Homo sapiens: one gene and its partners. The protein of the gene in region 3 interacts with the protein of the main gene of each other region in a biochemical or structural test. Each region holds a gene or a part of one and is shown on either strand. Other genes may lie near its edges.

Region 1 (7,414 bases), on a different chromosome or scaffold from region 3:
AGTAGCCTGGCTTTTCTTTGTACTCTTTCTCAGGGTATTTTATCATTAAATGTATTAAGTGATACCTGATGGACCTAAATAATCAAAGAAGTGAAGGTTTTATAAATATATGTGAGAATCAATTCTGAAAGCATAAGCACAAAACAAGTCTTCAGATAAATATGAGATTAAATAAATGATAACATAAATGTCATCAATTTTCTTTTACATCTATTAGTCCTTCTTTTAATTTAGCAGAAAATTAAAATTAATAAAAAGCTAAAAATAAACCCCACGGCAATAAATATTTTCAAGAAAAGCTATATAATAAAAGAAAAGTTGGTAAAATTGCTTTTAAAAATGTTCTCTTGTCTGATCAAGATGCCACACAATAAAGCATAAAATGGATAGTTAACTGACTTTTACAAAAGTAAACCTGGATAATTTTGGTTTGTAAAAGTAGCAGGAATTTTTTAAAGACAAAAATAATTTCTTTCACATCTTTTCCCAGCTTTAGAGCAGATAAATTTATGTTATGCTAATTTGTTTAATCTCTCATTTGTATGTTTACTTTGTTTTAGAAAAAATAATATACCCTATTAGATATAATTACATATTTATAATTACATATTTTTATATAAATTTATAATTATATATTTATAATTACACATTTATAATTATATATTTATAATTACATATTTTATATAAATAATACATTAAATTAAATTTATATAAAATTTAATACATTAAATTAAATTTATATAAAATATAAATTTTATATAAATAAATTAAATTAAATAAATAACTACATATTTATGATTACATATTTTTATATAAAAAATATAAACCAACAATTTGCTGAGTTACGGTATTCTTTGCTCATTATATATTGATATATTAATGTAAGATTTCTGTATTCTGGAAAATATATTATTACTCATGTCTTTGATTTGAGAATGTATGTGTGGAGAAATTATAGGTAGCATGAACTCTTGATGCATTTTTTTCCAGTAAGTTTCTAAGAATAATTATTGCATGTATTCCATAGTAATTTATTTTAAAATATTTATATTTATAAGAAAATGATTAATTACTCAATATTTTTATATAAAAATGTCTTGCTTATACAATCATCCTTCTATGTGGCACATTGGTTCCAGGACCCCCAAGGATACCAAAATCTTTCGATGCTCAAGTCCCTGGTATAAAATGGTGTAGTATTTGCATATAACCTAGGCACATCTTCTACCTTAAATCATCTCCAGATTACTTATAATATCTAAATCAATGTAAATGCTATGTAAATAATTGTTATACTGTATTGGGTTTTTTATTTGTATCATTTTTATTCTTGTGTTGTTATTTTTTACTTTATTTTTTAAGTGTATTTAATTCATGGTTGCATCAATCCATGAATGCAGAACCCATGGATATGGAAGGCACACTAGACATGTCATTTAATATAAATTGAAGTAGAATCTTTGTCGATAAAAATTGTAATGTATTGATAAAGAAAACAAGAAACAAAATGTGTTGGAATTTGGCTTATATACTGTCCTCTCACCTATACTTCCCAACTGAGATAGACTCTTCCAATGAAAAAGGAAATCTGGAAGCAATTGTGTAATAATTTCAGACCTTTTTACATTTTTTGTGATTTAACATATCCACTCAGTAGAGTCAATGCTTTACCATTTATCGGTAATCACTTATCATATATAAAGTTGCAAACTTTCTTGCTTCTTATATTTGCTTTTCCTTAAATAATAATCAAGAAATTATTCTATTATATTGTATATTTTTCAAGAAATCTTGTTAGTGACTTTTTAATAGAACTTTTAAGGTTACCTTTTGTTAATATTTAATCACTCCTCAAGCCTATTTAGCCATATTAATATACTTTATATTCTCATCATTCTCTTTCTGCCTACCTTCATTTAATTAAAAAAGATGTGATTATTTCTTAATAAAATCAAGTTTTTACTGATTAAATAGTGGGGCGTTTTTATATTGTGAAATCAATTTCCCAATCACAAGAAAACTTCTCAGCATAGCACTTAGCCGAAGCATTTAGTGCCATGATCACAACAAACATCACCCATTATTTATTCAATGAATTAAGAAAACAGAGTTCAATGCATAGACTCTGGTTAGAGTTCAACCTCAGATTCCCAGGAATAGGTGTCATTTAAGAGAAAAACATGATAGAAAATGTATGCTTCTGAGAGAAGTTGTTTGTTTCTATTTTAGTTATTTGCAGTCCCCTGCTTCTTTCCTTTAACCCTATCTTTGGTTTTGCTGCTCTGGAGAAGGTAGAAGACAAATAATCTCAATTCTACTAAGCTACTTTGACTCCTTCTTCGGAAGACTGAATGTAAGGTAACCTTGTAAGTACTGAGACAGGCTAGAGCAGAATAATGGGCTAAGTCAGGCAAAACCCTTTCTTATATAGAAATAAGGAGAATGACAAATGGTCTTTTTCATTTTATTTCTTTGTTTACTCACAGGTAGTTTAACCCCTTGTCTTTATAAATTTCCTGACCACACCTTGAGTCATGGATTTCCTCCTATACACCAGCCTCTTCTGGCAGAGGACCCCACAGCTGCTGATTTCAAGCAGGAACTCAGGCGGAAAAGTAAATTGGTGGAAGAGCCAATAGACATGGATTCTCCAGAAATCAGAGAACTTGAAAAGTTTGCCAATGAATTTAAAGTGAGACGAATTAAATTAGGTATGTGCTTGTTAAAGGCAACAGGAAAAAGAACTTGGTTTGCAAATCTTTATTGCTGTTAAATCTCTTATATATTGCTAAAAAGTACAAGATGATTCTCATTCTTCATCTCTACTGTGGACGTAGTTAGTCGTTATGGAAATCCTCCAAAAACATTTGTTTCCTTATAATTTCTTAAGAGCCTAAATACATAATTTTTAAATTAATAATACTCTTTCAAAACTTACCTCAACATTAGTTTTGAAGTGCCCATTTTTATCTATATTTTATTTGAAATTTTGAATAGGCCATACATTTATATGATTCAAAAGTACAAAAGAGTATAAGTGACATGTATCCCTTCTGCTTGCTTTTTCTGTATATCGTTGTTAGTTCCTTGTGTATCTTTCCAATGATATCTCATGGATATATAAGTAAATATATATGGAAATATATGTATTGTGCCAAACATATGTATTATTTGAAGTTTTCAGTAGTAATTTTTCTAGAGCTCCTTTTCCTTTGTGGGGCTGTCAAGTTCCACTTTATGAATATACTGCAATTTATTTGACCAGTCCTCTACTGATGAAATTTAGGTGGTTTCTGATCTTTGGCTGATAAAAACGATACCACGATGATTAACCCTATAAATGTTATTTTGCACTCATATAAATATATGCGCAGCAAAAATGTTAGAAGCACAATTGCTTGATCAAAAGTATGTGTACTGGTAATTTTGATAGATGTTATCAAACTGGTCTCTAGAGAAGTTGTACCAAATTTTACTACTACCATGAGAATCTTTTTCACCATCCTCAGGCTATATAAACTCCAAAACGGCATGAGTTTTTAAAATCTATTTCTTTTTATTTTCTCCTTAATGATATCTCCAGCATCTAGAAGAGTATAACTATAACACAAAATAAATAAATGGTGGTTGAAAGAAAAAATATGCTGTTAATCTTTTAGATCTTTGCAAATCAGACAGGTCAAAGTGACATCTCACTGTTTTTTCATTTAAAATTTCTTTTATTATGAGTGTAAAGTATATTATTTAATATGCTTGACAATCATTTATATTTCCTTTTCTGTGAACTATCTGTTCAGAGCCTTTGCTCATTTTCTACTGAAGTGTTTTTAAAATAAAACAACTATAACAATTGACTTTGGTTAAATTGCATAAAATTGTGTATTTTTTTAATGGATTGAAATAATAGTTCAAACCTCTGCACTTGCAGAATGAACAATAGATAATGTAATAAGAATATTTATTGATGGGCATCATATGCAACCATTTTATACATATAGGTATATAGCCTTAGGTCCTGAAATAATATGTAGCTATTACATGTGATAAGCACAGTAGTAGGAATCTTTGTGAAATTCATTTTCAGTTTTCTATCTATATTACTGTGAATGTTTCAAATTATATGTTATTTCAGCTGTACTCTAAAAATGTTTGCGACAAACAATAAGGATCATTAGTCTGAAGACAGAGGCATTATCAAAAACTATAAAATGGGCTCAGAAGTATACATGAAATGTGTAATCATAGCCTCTTAATAAATATGGTTTTAGGGAAAGTGACATAATTCTTAGTTTTATTTAGTACCCTTCAACAATATCATTGAATCTTTTAGAGTTGAAATAAGAATGTTATGATATATAACCGTATATTTTATGCATTATAGTTAATATATTAAAATTTTTTGAGCATATATTATTTGATAACTAACAATAATGATAAAAAAGCCATAATTTTCAAGTGCCTTATGAAGTGTTTAGGACACACCTAAACACTGGTTAAATATTATGAATGGCAGATGTTTCTATCTGAATTCTTTCAGTGACTAGATAAAAGTAATTTATTAACTAGAAGAAATATGTTTTGAAGTATTGCACAAGTACTTCAAAGTATAATGAATCTTACTAAATAATTCTGATTTGCCAAGAATATATAGTTAAAAAATAGTGTGTAATAGTTGACAAAGATACACAGATTTGTGTGACAATGAACCAAAATTAACATTTCCTGGAAAGTTGGAGCTGATGGTCTTTATTGTCCCTTCACAGGATACACCCAGACAAATGTTGGGGAGGCCCTGGCAGCTGTGCATGGCTCTGAATTCAGTCAAACAACAATCTGCCGATTTGAAAATCTGCAGCTCAGCTTTAAAAATGCATGCAAACTGAAAGCAATATTATCCAAATGGCTGGAGGAAGCTGAGCAAGTAGGAGGTACTAAATTGTGTCTCTGAAGGCTGTGCTGTGTTTTAACCTAAAAATAATGGCTTCAATAAGTAGGATTAATGCTAAAGCAGGAGGTTTGAGGGGTTTTTTTCCGCCTTTTCTCTTTGAGATGAAAAATAAACATTTTGTTATATCACACTAAAACAAACAACAAAAAAGGAAGGGCAATGTAAGTGTGGAAATAAATTTATTGAGGATAGAATAACCTATATAAGGAAAGCTTGTTGGCATCAGCATGAAGGGGTAAAATACTTATTTTTTTACACATCCATTTTTTTCCTCTCTTTTATACTAGAGAAATTATATATGAATCACATTTGTATCCTAATATTAGTGTACACAAAACATTTGCACACACCAGTCTTCCAAGAAAATAATATAAGCAATTGCTAGATATGCAACTTAATGAGCTAAAATTATCTACTCATACAAATGTCAGAGCCTGATAAAGAGTGAGGTTTGAGAGTATTTACAGCAAGCATTCCAACAAAAGTAAAGTGAGGATATTATTTGTAGAAAGTGTCTTTGCAAGGTTAATATTTATTTCTGCGTTGAGATTTTTCTCTAAGGTCTGTAATAGAAAAAGACTGCAAAAATTTAAGACAAAAATGTCTAGCATTTTTATTTTGCATTGTTTTATGAAGAAAATTTGAAATCCAAATCAGATCGTTTTTTATAAAAAGTCTACTTTGTGTTTGTAATTATCTCTCTTTTCCACATTATAGCTTTGTACAATGAAAAAGTGGGAGCAAATGAAAGGAAAAGAAAACGAAGAACAACTATAAGGTATTCTTTATATTAAAAGTTACTAGAGGACAAAACTGGTATTTTATAAATGGAATGAGCATTTGAGTGTAATGCAGGTGTAACATAACATATAAATGTAAGGTGAATTGGGAGGCCAAGGCGGGCCTGAGGTCAGGAGCTCGAGACCAGTCTGGCCAACATGGTGAAACTCTGTTTCTACTAAAAATACAAAATTTAGCCGGGCATGGTGGTGGGTGCCTATAATCCCAGCTACTCAGGAGACTGAGGCAGGAGAATGGCTTGAACCTGGGAGGCGGAGGTTGCAGTGATCCGAGCTTGCGCCACTGCACTCCAGCTTGGGCGACAGAGCGAGACACCGTCTCAAAATAAATAAATAAATAAATAAATAAATAAATAAATAAATAAATAAATAAATAAAAAAAAAATAATAATAATGTAATAACTTAATTTTGAGAAATGGAGAGCTAATAATTTTCAACATTTGATGGAAAATTATGTATTGTTTGATTCAAGAACACTTTTACTCCAAAATTTTGAATACAAACAGAAAGAAAACAATCATTTCTAAGAGACTGGCCATATCTTCTCCCCTTTTAGCTATAACTTATTGCTCTGACAATGTAGTATCCATGGTGTCTATAGTATTTAAAAATGTGACACTAGTAATCAGTGTTTCGGTCTCTTCAAGTTCAACATGACCTCTTGCATTTCAACCCAGAAAGATTGTTCATTGATCTTTTTGTAGTTTCTGTGAGACATGCTTAGCAAATACTAAAAGACAGGTTTTGTTTTGGTTGGTCAGTTGTTTACTAGAGATTTCCTTTATCGTAAACAGCCCTAAATGATTTTGGGGAGATATTTAGAAATGTCTAGGAAAATGTTCATTTTCTTCTCAAGAACTCAGTGCCCTCTGGTGGCACAAAGTGGGAAAAACATAGAAAGTCTGGGTCCCCTACTTAATGCTTTCCGTGACTCTCGTGTAACTCTACCTTACATAAGACAAAATATCTACATATTTAACACATTATACATTTGTCCTTGTTAAAGTGTCCTGCAAGTGTGTTCAGAGTTTTTAAGTTTCCTTTTCATGTTAATATTGAGGAAATTCAACCTACCTTAATTTTGAGCTGCCAAAAACTTCACTAAAAACAACAAAATTTCACCCCCTATGTCCACCCCCCGCCAGCATTGCTGCTAAAGATGCTCTGGAGAGACACTTTGGAGAACAGAATAAACCTTCTTCTCAAGAGATCATGAGGATGGCTGAAGAACTGAATCTGGAGAAAGAAGTAGTAAGAGTTTGGTTTTGCAACCGGAGGCAGAGAGAAAAACGGGTGAAAACAAGTCTGAATCAGAGTTTATTTTCTATTTCTAAGGAACATCTTGAGTGCAGATAAGATTTTTCTATTGTATAATAGCCTTTTTCTCCCGTTTCATTCCTTTCTCTTCCTCAACAAAAACAGAAATTACTTGGTTGACTTAAAATCATTTTATATCAATAGCTTTTACAGAAGCTTTACTTTTCCACTTTTTTTTAAAAAAAAGAAACCAACAATTTAAATTATATTGATGTTATTTACTTAAAATAATTATTCTCAGAAGCCACATTATCTATTTTAAGCCAAATATATTAACAGTAATAAAATGATCTCTCTGTCTCTCCCGCTCTCTTTCTCACACACACGCAGACATATGAGTATGGGTTT
Region 2 (7,220 bases), on a different chromosome or scaffold from region 3:
TTTGGCATTTCTCCCTCTTTCCTTCTCTACGCCTTCTGCTGGGGACCTGACACCATCTTGCCCATGACTCCAGTGCCACCATTTCTAGCTCCATCCACTTTAGACCACAGAGGATCCTCACCCTCTTTTTTTTTTGAGACGGAGTCTCGCTCTGTCTCCCAGGCTGGAGTGCAGTCGTGCGATCTTGGCTTACTGCAAGCTCCGCCTCTCGGGTTCACGCCATTCTCCTGCCTCAGCCTCCTGAGTAGCTGGGACTACAGGCGCCCACCACCATGCCCAGCTAATTTTTTGTATTTTTAGTAGAGACAGGGTTTCACCGTGTTAGCCAGGATGGTCTTGATCTCCTGACCTCGTGATCCGCCTGCCTCGGCCTCCCAAAGTACTGGGATTATAGGTGTGAGCCACTGCCTCTGGCCTGATCCTCACCCTCTTTAATGGAGACTCACTCTAGAAGATAAATATTCCCTTTCTTACTAAAAATTAGGTCACATCTCATAACATAATTTTATGAATTTATTTTAAAAAACAAAAGTAAACAAAATTTTCCCTTTGAAGAAAAGGGTGAACAGAACAAGAAAGCAAAAGGGATAAAAATGAGTAAATGTCCAACAATGATAGTCTGGATTAAGAAAATGTGGCACATATACATCATGGAGTACTATGCAGCCATAAAAAATGATGAGTTCATGTCCTTTGTAGGGACATGGATGAAGCTGGAAACCATCATTCTCAGCAAATGATCGCAAGGACAAAAAACCAAACACCGCATGTTCTCACTCATAGGTGGGAATTGAACAATGAGAACACTTGGACACAGGAAGGGGAACATCGCACACCGGGGCCTGTTGTGGGGTAGGGGGAGGGGGGAGGGATAGCATTAGGAGATATATCTAATGTAAATGACAAGTTAATGGGTGCAGCACACCAACATGGCACATGTATACATATGTAACAAACCTGCACATTGTGCACCTGTACCCTACAACTTAAAAGTATAAATATATATATATATATATATATATATATATATATATATATATAATGAGTACCTTGCCTATCCTGTTCCATATATAAAGCACAGCGTCCAGCACATAGTAGGTGCTTAGTAAACAGTAGTGAGGTGTTCAGGGCATGTGCCTTGGAATAAGATAATCCAGATTCACGTTCTGGGTACATTACTTGCTAACTCCTCTACCTAGGGCAAGTTACTTAAACATCGCAAGTCTCAGTTTCTTCGCTGAGAAAGTGGGGAGAGTAACAGTGCCTACTTTGTAGGATTACTGTGAAGATTAAACTAAATTGTCAATCTAAAATCCTTAGTGCATGAGCCAGGTATGGCAGCTTGTGTCTATAATCCCAGCTACTTAGGAGGTTGGGGTGGGAGAAATGCTTGATGCTAGGAGTTCTAGACCAGCCTGAGCAACATAAAAAAAAAAAAAAACAATAAACCCCATCTCTTAAAAAAAAAAGAAATTAAAATTTAAAAATTAGCCAGGCATGGTGGCACATGCCTGCAGTCCCAGCTACTTGGGAGTCTGAGGTGGGAAGATCCCTTGAGCTCGAATTTGTGGCTGCAATGAACAATGATCACCTGGATGACAGAACAAGACCCCATCTCTTAAAGAAAACTGTTAGTGTCTAACACGTTATAAATATTTTATTATTGTTATTTACATACTTCAGCCTACCAAAACTCCTGTTTTCCATGGAGAAAACAGATCTGTTGATAACTCTGCAGTTTCCAGAAACACTGTGATTAGCAGAATGAGAAAAATGCCAGGAGAACTCAGAAGAGAAAGTCACTAGGAAGACTTAATCTCATCAGGTGATGCCAGAATCCAGAGGTTGTAATCTAGGACTTTGCCCAGGCATGCTTTGGGGCACAGTGGTGGGGAGGGAGCTGTTGCAAAGATGGGGCAAGAATGGTCTGGACATGACTCAGACACTTTAAAGTGAAAGAATGGGAAATTGTCTGGCAGCTGGTACTTACCATGGGCAGTCAGCACTCCTCTGACTGATTCACCTTCACCAGGGCACCAGCCTGCAGTGAAGTAGCTGGGGCTGGTTCCTTTTAGTGACACCCACCACCCCTTGCCCTTCCAGGTATTGTCCACAGATGACACCTCCTCCTCCTCCTCCTGCTCCTCCTCCTGCTCTGCCTCCTCCTCCTCCCCCTGCTCCTGCTTCTCCTCCTCTTCCTCCTGCTCCTTCTCCTCCTCCTCCTGCTCCTCCTCCTGCTCTTCCTCCTCCTCCTGCTCTTCCTCCTCCTCCTCCTGCTTCTCCTCCTCTTCTTCCTCCTGCTCTTTCTCCTCCTCTTCCTGCTCCTCCTCTCCTTCTGCTCCTCCTGCTTCTCCTCCTCCTGCTCCTCCTCCTCCACCTGCTCCTCCTCCTTCTCCTCCTCCTGCTCCTCCTCCTTCTGCTCCTTCTTCTCCTGCTCCTCTTCCTCCTGCTCCTGCTTCTCCTCCTTTCTCCTGCTCCTCCTCCTCCTGCTCCTCCTCCTGCTCCTCATCCTCCTTCTCCTCCTGCTCCTCCTTGTCCTCCTCTGCCCTTGATATTCACTTTGACCAGATTACACCAGTACAGAGAGTCCAAAGGTTAAATAGGCACACACTCACACACAAACTCACACTGGGCTAGAACAATGACAGAGCGTCCTGGGGGAGCAGAGTGGGGGCCGGGGGGAGGGGGAAAGGAGGATTGCAGGCCTAACTTTCACAAATCACCTGAAATTTCCACTGAAGGCATTATCTCCAAATGTTGCCACAGAGATAAACTGCCAGGATTACAAGAAAACGTGAAGACGTTCCCATAGAACTCTGTAATGCTTATATCCATCACCAGGAATGTCTGCCCTTGGCGCCCTAAACATAGATTGATTGATTGATTGATTGATTGATTTTGAGGCAGAGTCTCACTCTGTCACCCAGGCTGGAGTGCAGTGGTGCGATCTCAGCTCACTGCAACCTCCTCCTTCCGGGTTCAAGGGATTCTCCCACCTCAGCCTTGGAGTAGTTGGGATTACAGGCTCCTGCCACCACGCCCGGCTAATTTTTGTATTTTTTGTAGAGACTGGGTTTTGCCATGTTGGCTAGGCTGGTCTCAAACTCCTGACCTCAAGCGATCCTCTTGCCTCAGCCTTCCAAAGTGCTGGGATTACAGGCGTGAGCTACGGTGCCTGGCCCTAAATATAGATATTTTTAATAAATCCTCTACTTATCTCACAACGAGCTCAATCGCTTTGCATTAGATCGTTGGGTGTGTTAAAAGTATTCATGTGTTACATTAAATGTGAATTCAACAAAAGCAGAGATTTTTGTGTTTTGTTCTTCATTGTATCCCTTGATTGTAGAAAAGTGGCACATAGTAGGTGCTCAGTTAATCGTTGTTAAATGAAGACATAAATGAAATATAAACCATTAAATGTCCACCATATTTGTAAGCGTTTTGGCATGTCTTCATTGAAAGAATACCAGGCAGCTGGGAGCCATAGTTTACTCCGGTAATCCCAGTGCTTTGGGAGGCTGCAGGTGAGAGGATCGCTTGAGACCAGGAGTTCAAGAGCCACCAGGGCAACATAGAGAGACCTTGTCTCTACAAAAACAAAACAAAACAAAACAAAAAACAAAAAACACAATTCCCTTAAGCCGCCCCTTCCCCTTCCACTGCTCAGAGAAGGCCTTCCAGCAGAGCAGAGCACGAGGTCGCTGGCACACACCCATCCTCCACCAGTCCTGGCCTCTGTAGAGCAAGCCAGCAGAGCAGGCTGTTTCTCTCATTCAGGGACGGTTTAGGGGGTGGCAGGAAAAAATGGTTGCTGATAGGCGAAGGGCCTCCCTGGGTTGGAGAGAACCCCAGCCTCGGATGGTCCCAGCACATTTAAAAGAGAAGCAGTGCCAAAGGTGGGGTGCACTGAAAGCTGCTGGATGAAGGGAAAGATCCTTGTGCTCAGCCCGGAAAACCGGAGGATGGATACCAGGCCGAGGGGTCCCTCCGTGCCCCAAGAGAAAGTTCACCAAGTTTAGATCCCAGTGCCCCGCAGCGGGTGAAGGTGGTCCCGCCCCAGGCCGGATCTGGCCACAGGGCTGGCGGCGCGCTGGAAAACCGCCCACGTGGGAAGAAGCCCTGGCTGCATTTCCGCCCTGGACTGCGCTCCCGCCTGCCAGCGCGGTCCCTGCGCAGCCGCCCCGCGCCCACTAGGTGGCGCCTGCGCTCTAGTGGGCGCTTCACAGGCGCAGCGACAGCGACAGCGACAGCTCGAACCTGAGTCCCAGGATTCCGGGGACTGGAGGGCAGCGCCGGCAGCCAAGGTAGGATTCCTGAGCCCCGGGCGTCTCCCTGGAGCCTCTGAGGTCGGGGTGGACAGCGGGGCGGCCGCTGGGCACCGCTTGCGGTCTGCAGAGATAACCGGAGGAGTCGGGGCGGCAGCACGTGTTGTAGCCGTGGGGGGGACCCAGAGACCCGCAGCCTCGGAGCTGGGCCTAGAGCAAGGCAGAGCACCAGGTCGCTGGCACGCTCGCATCCTCCCCAGCCCTCGCCTCCCAGAGCATGCCCGAATCCCCAAGCCGGGCGTCCTCGAAGCGGAAAGCAGCCACTGTCGCCCAGAGCCACTCCAGGGTGGCAGCCGAGTGCTGATAAGGTCCAGAGCACCACTTCTTAAACTTGTCTGCCCGTTGGCGTTGCTTGGGAAGCATTAAAAAAATACCGATGCCCTAGTTCCACCCCCGCCCCCCCCCAGAGACTCAGATGTGATTGGTCTGGGTGGGGGACTGGACATCTGGGTATTAAAATGTTTGCAAGAGATTCCAGCTGGCAGCCAAATTTGAGGACCCTTGATCTAAGGAGTTGGAGAAAAACGGAGGACATTTGTTTGTTCTAACCCAGAATGCTGATGATTCCCTCCTCCTCCTATTCCTCCAGTTCGCCCTCCTCCTCCTTTCTCATGTGCCTTTTAAGCAGGAAATGCCTCTGCCTTTGTACTGTCAAACCCAAGATAACAAACTAACCATCCCCCACCCCCCACAGTAGGGCTGGTTCTGAAAGGGTTGAACTCGAAAGTGGACAAGGAACAGAAAGACACCAGTGTGGAATGTGAGCGAAGACTCTTAGGGGTTTATGGGTAGGAAGGGGGTTCCTCCCCACCCTGATCCCAGAGAAGATCAGGAGACTGGCTGGAGCTGTCTTCCTCATTTTGGCAAACCTAGCTGATTAGGCAGTGAGAGGCCTTATAACGAGCCTTTTTTACAACTAGTAAAAGGGCCCTTTTACAACTAGTAAAAATGAGCCCTTATGTTTGTTTGTTTTATAGAGATAGGGCCTCACTATATTCCCCAGGATGGTCTCAAACTCCTAGGCTCAAGCCATTCTCCAGCCTCGGCCTCCCAAAGTGCTGGGATTATAGGCATGAGCCGCTGCGCCCCGCTGACCCCTTATGTTTATATAACAGCAGTGTTACTAACATGGGCATAGATTCCCCCCCATAGGCAGCCCTTCCTTTGTGACCTTGGAAACTCACTGAACCATCCTCAGCTTCAGTTTTTGTATCTGCAAAATGGGTGTGAAAATCGGGTTGCCTTGGGAATTATTCACAATAAAAGCTACTGTTTACTAAGGGTTCACCCTATGCTAGAGGCTTTCTGTGCAGGGCCAAGTTAGACTCCTGACCATAACTTCCACGGTAGAACTATGAATACTGCATTTGATAGCCAAGGAAACTGAGGCTCAGAGAGGCCAATGATCTTGCTCGAAGTTATATAATTAATTAATAAGAAGCATGTCCCATATTTGAACCCAGGCAGTCTGCTCTTGAGCTCAGGTGCAAAAGAACAATACTCTGCTGTTTCCCTTGTTGACCAGGACAGCGTGCACGGGGCAGGCGCGTGGTGTGTCTTCACAAACACTAGCTATCACTGCTGTGAGCTGAGCACTTCCACTGAATTGACTCATTCGCTCATTGGAAATACATTTATTATTGAGAGCCTACTGTGGGCCAGGCAGTTTTCCAGATGCTAGAGATAAAATATGAGTAAGACAGAATTCAGCCAGCCCCGAATGAGAGAAACAGGAAGAAAGTGCAGTAGATTCTCATTATTCACAAGTTCTAAATTTGCAAATTCTTCCCTGTAATCCCAGCACTTTGAGAGGCTGAGGCAGGAGGATCGCTTGAGGCTAGGAGTTTCAGATCAGCCTGTGCAACAGAGCAAGGCCCTGTTTGCTTAAAAATTATACACATTGAATAATTCTTAAAAAAAATTTGTTTGTGGCCAGGCATGGTGGCTCATGCATATAATCCCAGTACTTTGGGAAGCTGAGGCAGAAAGATTACTTGAGGCTAGGAGTTCCAGATCAGCCTGGGTAACACAGTAAGACCCTATATCTTTATTTTAAAAATTATATAATTAAAGAATTTTTAAAAAAATATGTTTGTGGCCGGGTGTGGTGGCTCACACCTGTAATCCCAGCACTTTGGGAGACTGAGGTGTGAGGTTAGGAGTTTGAATTTAGGAGTTTGACACCAGCCTAATCACTTGAGCTAAGGAGTTTGAGACCAGCCTGGACAGCATAGAGAGACCTTGGCTCATTTAAAAAAAAAAAGAGGAAAAAAGGCCGGGTGCAGTGGCTCATGCCTGTAATCCCAGCACTTTGGGAGGCCGAGGTGGGTGGATACCTGAGGTCAAGAGTTCGAGACCAGCCTGGCCAACATGGCAAAACCCCGTCTCTACTAAAAATTCAAAAAATTAGCTGGGCGTGGTGGCAAGAGCCCGTAATCCCAGCTGCTTGGGAGGCTGAGGCAGGAGAATTGCTTGAACCTGGGAGGTGGAAGTTGCAGTGAGCCAAGATCACGCCATTGTACTCCAGCCTGGGCAACAACAGCGAAACTCCATCTCAAAAAAAAAAAAGAAAGAAAAAAGAAAAATAATGTCTGCGTAACTTCCAAATCAATATCCATGACACTTTCACAGTCATATATGGATGCACGTAGAATAGTGAAAAAGTTGAGTCACCCAACGTGCACATTTCCAGCCAAGGGCAAACAGGAGGACACGCTGCTTTCTGGTTTCAGCTCTTGTGCTATAAACAAGTGTCCCTTTTGTGGTGTACTTAGTGCCACATTTTTTGCATGTTTGTGTGTTTTTGTTTGTGATGTCGCTGTTTGAAATGGCCCCAAGTGTACAGTTGACGTGCTGTCTAGTGTTCCTAAGTATGAGAAGGCTGCGATGTGC
Region 3 (7,685 bases):
GACAGCAGTAAAAGGGGAAGGAAACGAAGAAGGTAAGAGAATGAATATGTGTTGATTTCCTTCCATATTTCAAGCACCGTGTAAGGAATTTTACATTTTACTACTTTATTACTTTGTTTAATCTTCACAGCAAACCTGGATAATGAGTGTTTTAACCCTTTTTTTTTCCAGGTGAGAAAACTGAAATTCAGAGAGCTTAACCCATCAGGTCACAATCCTCACAGGTGTTTTTCAGACCCTGGCCTGGAAAAGGCATGTTGGAAGAGGGTGAGGGTGTCAGTTAACCCTGAAAGCCTGTTCACCATGGATGCCAGGGGCATCCTGCAGCAGATTCCACTCTCCATCTGCATTACAGCAGTGACCCTGAAGCCAGGGGAGGGTTTGTGTACACAGAAGAGCAAACTCAAAGCAGTCTGTTCCCAAGGCAACCCCATCTCAAAGAACTTCAAGGTGGACTTCTCCAAGAAGAACAAGGCTCGGTGTAATCCCTGGCCCCAGGTGAAGGGCATCCCTGGACCAGAACATCTTTCTAGCCTAGCCTCTCCCTAAGCATTCAAAGCTGATGTAGGAAGAGGAAGTATGCCTCCCTTCCCTGGTCCGGTATTGGCTCAGCCTGATGATATCTGATTCCCAGGGCCCCATGGAGCTGGGTCTCAGTCACGTCAAACAATTAGAGAAGTGGCAAAAAATAAGTAATTCAACTAGCAAGAGCCAGTCAGAATTTGAACCTAAGTCTATATGACCCCAAAGCCCATGTTCTTTCCACTTTCTCACATTGGACTAGTCACCAAGTTAGGTAACATAGGAAAAGTTAGTTTGTGGGGGATTGACAATTCAATTTGAGACATATTGAATTTGAGGTGTCTATGTGACATCCAAGTGGAGTCATCTAATAAACTGTTGGGTATATTGGCCCTTGTATAAGCTATCTAAACACTCTGAGCCTCAGTTTTCTCATCTGTAAAATGATGATATTACCTATCTTACAGTGTTAACACAGGCAAGGATTTTTACATAGTACTCTGCTCATACTGGGTACACAAGAAGAATAAATTAAGGGAGCAATTAATACCTATAATATTATACATAGTCTTTACCACAACCTTAAATCAAACATTTAAGGTTTGATTATATATTTTCTTTTAAGACCTAGGAATTCAATTTATGTATTCAGTCTTCATAATTAATCTGGAAGTGTCTCTGTAATAGGGACTCTCTTTTGTCTCTCCTTCTGGTGCCTAATCATGAGTGGACACTTGATAACTTATTGCTGGAGTAAATTGTCAACTGTGAAAATGGATTGGCACCCAAGTATGGAGGGCCCTTGTCCTTCTCCTGTAGTCTGTCTCCCAATTGGCGATACTACCATCCACTCAGTCACCCATGCCAGAAACCTGGAGTCATCTTTAATTCCTCGTCCTCTTTCTTAATCCAGGCACTCTAGTAGTCACCAAATTCCAATAATTCCACTTTCCATGTATTTCTCAAAACCCTCTCCTCCCCTACATCCTTCCACTATCTTAGCTCCAGCTTAATCTTCTCTCACCTACATTATGGCAATAGCTTTCTTCTTCTTCTTCTTTTTTTTTTTTTTTTTTTTTGGTAGGGGGGACGGAGTCTTCCTCTGTTGCCCAGGCTGGAATGCAGTGGTGCAATCTCGGCTCACTGCAACCTCTGCCTCCCAGGTTCACGCCATTCTCCGGCCTCAGCCTCCCAAGTAGCTGGGAGGCACCCGCCACCGTGCCCAGCCAATTCTTTGCATTTCTAGTAGAGACGGGGTTTCGCCGCGCTAGCCAGGATGGTCTCAATCTCCTGACCTCATGATCTGCCCATCTCGGCCTCCCAAAGTGCTGGGATCACAGGCATGAGCCACCACACCCGGCAGGCAATAGCTTACTAACTGGTCTCTTTGCCTTCAGTCCTACCCCCTCAAATCCAACAGCCAGCAGAGTAAATGATCTAGAATATAGACATGACAATGTCATTTCACAGCTTTCTCTTTCAAAGTTTCCTGATGGACTCAAAGTGTTTAGCCTGACACATGAGGTCTCCTGTGATCTGCCTACATCTCAGCCTTATATCCCACCTCTCCAGCCTTATCTCTTCCCACTCCCAGCCTGAAATGTTATACTCCAGTAAGAGAGGCCCGTCTGTGGTTCTACCATATCTACCTTTTTGTATCTGGCTTCTTGACCATCTCAGGTTGCACCCTCTGCCTGAACTGCCTTTTATATTCCCCCTAGCTAACTCATCATTACCCTGTAAAAGTCAACTCAGTTGCCACACCTCCAGAAAGCCTCTCCTGCCTCTTCCTCGACACCCCTTTTCCAAAGCAGAATTAGGTGCCCCGCTATTTCAGTGCCATAATGCTCTGTGCATGGCACCATCACTGATCTGACCATATTTCTTTATATCTGTGTAAAGGTCTGTCTCCCCCATTAGCGATTAAAATTCATGAGGGTAGGAGAGCATCTTACTCATCTTTTAACTCTAGTATCTAAGACATAGGTGGATTCTTGGTCAATATTTGTTGATTGAATAAATTAGTATGAATTGTCAGAGTCACAAAGACACCAACAGATACATACACATAAATATTCTTACCATCTCCCAAGGAACAGATCCAAGCATCTGTGCTCTCTGGAACTCAGTTTATTTCAAAATACAAAGTTATGCATAGTTAGATGCTATACCACTTGAGATTAGGGGTTCTACCAACTCATTCTGGTAACCTAAACAAGGATCTTTTTAACTCAGTCTCTCTCTCTGTGTGTGTGTGTGTGTGTGTGTGTGTGTGTATGACTCCAGCCTGCACTTGGGGTTTTAACTCATCTTTAGAGAAACATTAATTATAATTTAATGCAAATGAAGAAGCAGAAGACATAATAGCAAAACAAAGAAAAATAGGCCGGGCACAGTAGCTATTATTACAGGTGCACGCCTGTAATCCCAGCACTTTGGGAGGCCGAGGCGGGCGGATCACGAGGTCAGGAGTCCGAGACCAGCCTGGTCAACATAAACCCCAGCTCTACTAAAAGTACAAAAATTAGCTGGGTGTGGTCGCTCTGTCACCCAGGCTGGAGTGCAGTGCTGCGATCTCGGCTCACTGCAACCTCTGCCTCCCGGGTTCAAGTAATTCTCCTGCCTCAGCCTTCCACGTAGCTAGGAATACTAGCGTGCGCCACCATGCCTGGCTAATTTTTGTATTTTTAGTAAAGACAGGGTTTCACCACGTTGGCCAGATCTCTTGATCTCATGATCTGCCCAACTCGGCCTCCCAAAGTGCTGGGATTACAGGCATGAGCCACCCCGCCCAGCCAAAAAAAAAATATTTTTTAAAAATAGCACTTTATTATTATTATTATTAGAGATAGGGTCTTGCTATGTTGCCCAGGTTGGATTCAAACTCCTGGGCTCAAACCATTCTCTCCCTGTCTCCAGAGTAGGGGGATGTACAGGGCATGTCACTGTGCCCTGTGGTCACTCTGATTTGATTCTCAGCCCTCCCTAGTTAGGAAGTGAGAGGGCTCTTTCCGTAAGCTCTTACTTAGATCGTAGTCTCTCTCTCTCTCTCTTTTTTTTTTTTTTTTAGACGGAGTCTCACTTGTTCTGTGCCCAGGCTGGAGTTCAGTGGCATGATCTCAGTTCACTGCAACCTCCGCCTCCCGAGTTCAAGCAGTCCTCCCACCTCAGCCTCCCAATTAGCTGGGATTACAAGTATGTGCCATCATGCCCAGCTAATTTTTGTATTTTTAGTAAAGACAGGGTTTCACCATGTTATCCAAGCTGGTCTCGAACTACTGACCTCAAGTAACCTGCCTGCCTCAGCCTCCCAAAGTTCTGGGATTACAGGTGTGAGCCACCGTGCCCAGCCCCTAGTCTCTTAAAAACTTTTTTTGGGGGAGCCTTGTGGAACTGTCACACCTCTTCTTTTAGTACTGACATACTGCGTGTGAAAAAGCTTGCTCTGTCTGTCTGCCTGTCTCTCTCTCTCTCTCTCTCTTCCCAGCTTGTTCAGGATCTCTGTACACAGAAGGCTGCAGATGTAGCCTTAAACTCATCAACAGGGAAAATCTCGATGAGTCTAATAAGCAGCAGCTTCCAATGAGTCACAAGGTTCCCACCCACTGGAGTCCCTCCCCGTGTGCCACCAACCAGCACTTTTGTCATGCTGGGAAAACCTCCCACCCAGGCCTTTGCCCTGAGTCCAGGGTCTGTGCCCTAACCCCACAGTCACTGAGAGCAACTGGAGGCCACATAAAACAGACATCTCTTGTTTTCCAGATACTACGGGTCATAATCCCTAACTCCAATCACTGGCAACTCCTGAGATCAGAGGAAAACCAGCAACAGCGTGGGAGTTTGGGGAGAGGCATTCCATACCAGATTCTGTGGCCTGCAGGTGACATGCTGCCTAAGAGAAGCAGGTAGGAAATCTGTTGGGGACCAAAGACTAAATGTAATAAAATACAGATAATGCTGGGGGCTAGGCATAGTGGCTCACGTGTGTCATTCCAGCACTTTGGGAGGCCAAGGTGGGGGGATCGCTTGAGCCCAGGAGTTCAAGACCAACCTGGGTTACATAACAGACCCCATCTCTACAAAAAAGAAAGAAAAGAGGCCAGGCGCGGGAGCTCATGCCTGTAATCCCAGCACTTTGGGAAGCCAAGGTGGGAGGATTGATCACTTGAAGTCAGGAATTTGTTTTTTTGTTTTTTTGTTTTTTGTTTTGTTTTTTTGGGTTTTTTTTGAGATGGAGTCTCGCTCTGTCGCCCAAGCTGGAGTGCAGTGGCGCAATCTCGGCTCGCTGCAACCTCTGCCTCCCAGGTTGAAGCGATTCTCCTGCCTCAGCCTCCCAAATAGCTGGGACTACAGGCACATGCCACGATGCCCAGCTAATTTTTGTATTTTTAGTAGAGACGGGGTTTCACCATGATGGCCAGGATGGTCTCGATCTCATGACCTGGTGATCCGCCCACCTCGGCCTCCCAAAGTGCTGGAATTACAGGCATGAGACACTGCACCAGGCCTAAGTCAGGAATTTGAAACCAGCCTGGCCAATATGGTGAAACCCCATCTCTACTAAAAATAAAAAATTAGCTGGGCATGGTGGCGGGCACCTTAATCCCAGCTACTCAGGAGGCGGAGGCATGAGAATCACTTGAATCTGGGAGGCGGAGGTTGTAGCGAGCCAAGATTGCACCACTGCCCTCCAGCCTGGGTGACAGAGCAAGACTCAATTTCAGGGAAAAAAAAAAAAAGGAAAGAAAGGAATAAGAGAGGGAGGGAGGAAGGAAGGAAGGAAAAGAAAAAAATATCCTGGTGTGGTGGTGTGTACCTATAGTTCCAGCTACTCAGGAGGTTGAGGCAGGAGGATCCCTTGAGCCCAGGAGTGTGAGGTTACATTGAACTATGATGCACTCCAGCCTAGGCAACACTAGGCAACAGAGTAAGACTCTATCTCAAAAAACAGAACAAACAAATAAACAAAAAAAAATAAACAAAAAAACCAACCTGGGCAACATGGCAAAACCCCATCTCTACAAAAAAAATAAATAAATAAATAAACAAAAATTAGCTGGACATGGTGGTCTGGACCTGTAGTCCCTGCTACTCAGGAGGCTGAAGTGGAGGATTGCTTGAGCCCAGGAGGCAGAGGTTGCAATGAGCAGAGATCTAGCCTAGGTGACAGAGCAAGAACTTGTGTCAGAAAAAAAAGAAAAAGAAAAAGAAAAAGAAAACCACAAAAGATAACGCCAGGGATCAAGTCAAGGGCATGTTTGGTTTGGTTTGGAAAGAGACTCTCTAGAAGGGACAGAAAAGGGTCAAGGGTGGCCCAAAACTGACTGCTGACCCCTCCTACATTCAGGAGTCTGTGACAGCCACCCCAACACGTGACGTCATGGCCAGTAGGGAAGATGAGCTGAGGAACTGTGTGGTATGTGGGGACCAAGCCACAGGCTACCACTTTAATGCGCTGACTTGTGAGGGCTGCAAGGGTTTCTTCAGGTGAGAGTCTCCTCCCCAATGGAAATAGCCCTCCAAACCAAACTCCCTATTAGTCAGCCTTTACACCCTCGCTGGTGCCCAAGCCTGTCCAGCTACATTACTCCTTTATCTTAGAGTCTAACTACCCTGTGGCTGGCATCCTACATCTTGCCAAACACATCACTGTATAAACTGGTGGCATAACAGAGGGAAAGCTGAATGTTTGTCTGATGGACACAGCCCATTAGTCAAGAGCATTTATTATGTACCCACTGCCTGTGAAGCACCTAGCTAGTACTACATCAACTAGGCTTTCTGGAGTGATCCTGTGTTGCCATGGAAATGCTTGAGATGTGTTGGATACTATCCACCCCTGGGGACCTTTGGGCACAGCTCAGATTAGTCCATTTCACCAGATTCCCAGGTCTTTTAGACCATGTCATCTCAGCCCCTCACCTATCCATTGCATCCCAGACTCTAACAACATCTCTGTGTCTCACAGGAGAACAGTCAGCAAAAGCATTGGTCCCACCTGCCCCTTTGCTGGAAGCTGTGAAGTCAGCAAGACTCAGAGGCGCCACTGCCCAGCCTGCAGGTTGCAGAAGTGCTTAGATGCTGGCATGAGGAAAGACAGTGAGTTGGCCCCCTACATCTCAAGAATCCATTGACTGCGTCTGTCTTTGTCCTTGTTCCCAACAGTGCATTCTCTACATAGCAGGCACAGTACTCTTTTTGAAACTAGTTGGATTATGTCACTATTCACTCAAGACATCCAATGGCTCCCCATCTCAAAGTACGTGATCTCATGATCTAGCTCTCCCACAACACCTTTCAGACTTTATTTCATACTCTTCCCCCTTTACTCAACCAATTCTAGCCACACTGACTTCACTGTCATTCTTAGAAACACCAGGCCGGGCGCGGTGGCTCACGCCTGTAATCCCAGCACTTTGGGAGGCCGAGGCAGGCGGATCACGAGGTCAGGAGATCGAGACCATTCTGGCTAACACAGTGAAACCCCGTCTCTACTAAAAAAATACAAAAAAAATTAGCCGGCCGTAGTGGCGGGCGCCTGTAGTCCCAGCTACTCGGGAGGCTGAGGCAGGAGAATGGCGTGAACCCGGGAGGCGGAGCTTGCAGTGAGCCGAGATCGCGCCACTGCACTCCAGCCTGGGTGACAGAGCCAGATTCCGACTCAAAAAAAAAAAAAAAAAAAAAAAAAACACCAAGCGCACTCTTCCCCAAGGCTTTTCCACTTGCCATTTCCTCTACCTGAAATGCTTTTCTCCTAGATAGCCACATGGCTAGTCTTGTCTTTTCTTTTCTTTCTATTTTTTTTGATAGAGTCTCATACTCTGTTGCCCAGGCTGGAGTGCAGTGGCGCCATCTCGGCTCACTGCAACCTCCGCCTCCTGCGTTCAAGTGATTCTCCTGCCTCAGCCTCCTGCATAGCTGGGATTACAGGCATGTGCCACCACACCCAGCTAATTTTTTGTATTTTTAGTAGAGATGAGCTTTCACCATGTTGACCACGCTGGTCTCAAACTCCTGGCCTCAGGCGATCTGCCCACCTCCGCCTCCCAAAGTGCTCAGATTACAGGTGTGTTTTTTATTTTCTATCTGTTGAGTATAGTGCCTGTCACCTAGTAGGTGCTCAATAACTTAATTAATGCTTTCTCTGTGCCAGGTAACTGTGC

The links. Proteins that work in one complex are often made in the same cells at the same time.
Region 1: the proteins of NR1I3 (region 3) and POU1F1 form a complex in vitro, tested with the Homo sapiens proteins (one study listed by BioGRID).
Region 2: the proteins of NR1I3 (region 3) and CHD9 form a complex in vitro, tested with the Homo sapiens proteins (one study listed by BioGRID).

What each region holds. Positions count from the first base shown.
Region 1 is NC_000003.12:87,259,585-87,266,998, reverse strand, and holds part of POU1F1 (pituitary-specific positive transcription factor 1), read left to right. Parts: intron 1-2,486; coding exon 2,487-2,711; intron 2,712-4,763; coding exon 4,764-4,928; intron 4,929-5,665; coding exon 5,666-5,726; intron 5,727-6,894; coding exon 6,895-7,105; 3' UTR 7,106-7,414. UniProt on the Homo sapiens protein: Transcription factor involved in the specification of the lactotrope, somatotrope, and thyrotrope phenotypes in the developing anterior pituitary. Specifically binds to the consensus sequence 5'-TAAAT-3'. Activates growth hormone and prolactin genes.
Region 2 is NC_000016.10:53,050,771-53,057,990, forward strand, and holds the start of CHD9 (chromodomain-helicase-DNA-binding protein 9), read left to right. Parts: upstream 1-4,220; 5' UTR 4,221-4,307; intron 4,308-7,220. UniProt on the Homo sapiens protein: Probable ATP-dependent chromatin-remodeling factor. Acts as a transcriptional coactivator for PPARA and possibly other nuclear receptors. Has DNA-dependent ATPase activity and binds to A/T-rich DNA.
Region 3 is NC_000001.11:161,234,783-161,242,467, reverse strand, and holds the start of NR1I3 (nuclear receptor subfamily 1 group I member 3), read left to right. Parts: upstream 1-4,264; 5' UTR 4,265-4,407; coding exon of another isoform or gene 4,408-4,427; intron 4,428-5,869; 5' UTR 5,870-5,902; coding exon 5,903-6,009; intron 6,010-6,490; coding exon 6,491-6,621; intron 6,622-7,685. UniProt on the Homo sapiens protein: Binds and transactivates the retinoic acid response elements that control expression of the retinoic acid receptor beta 2 and alcohol dehydrogenase 3 genes.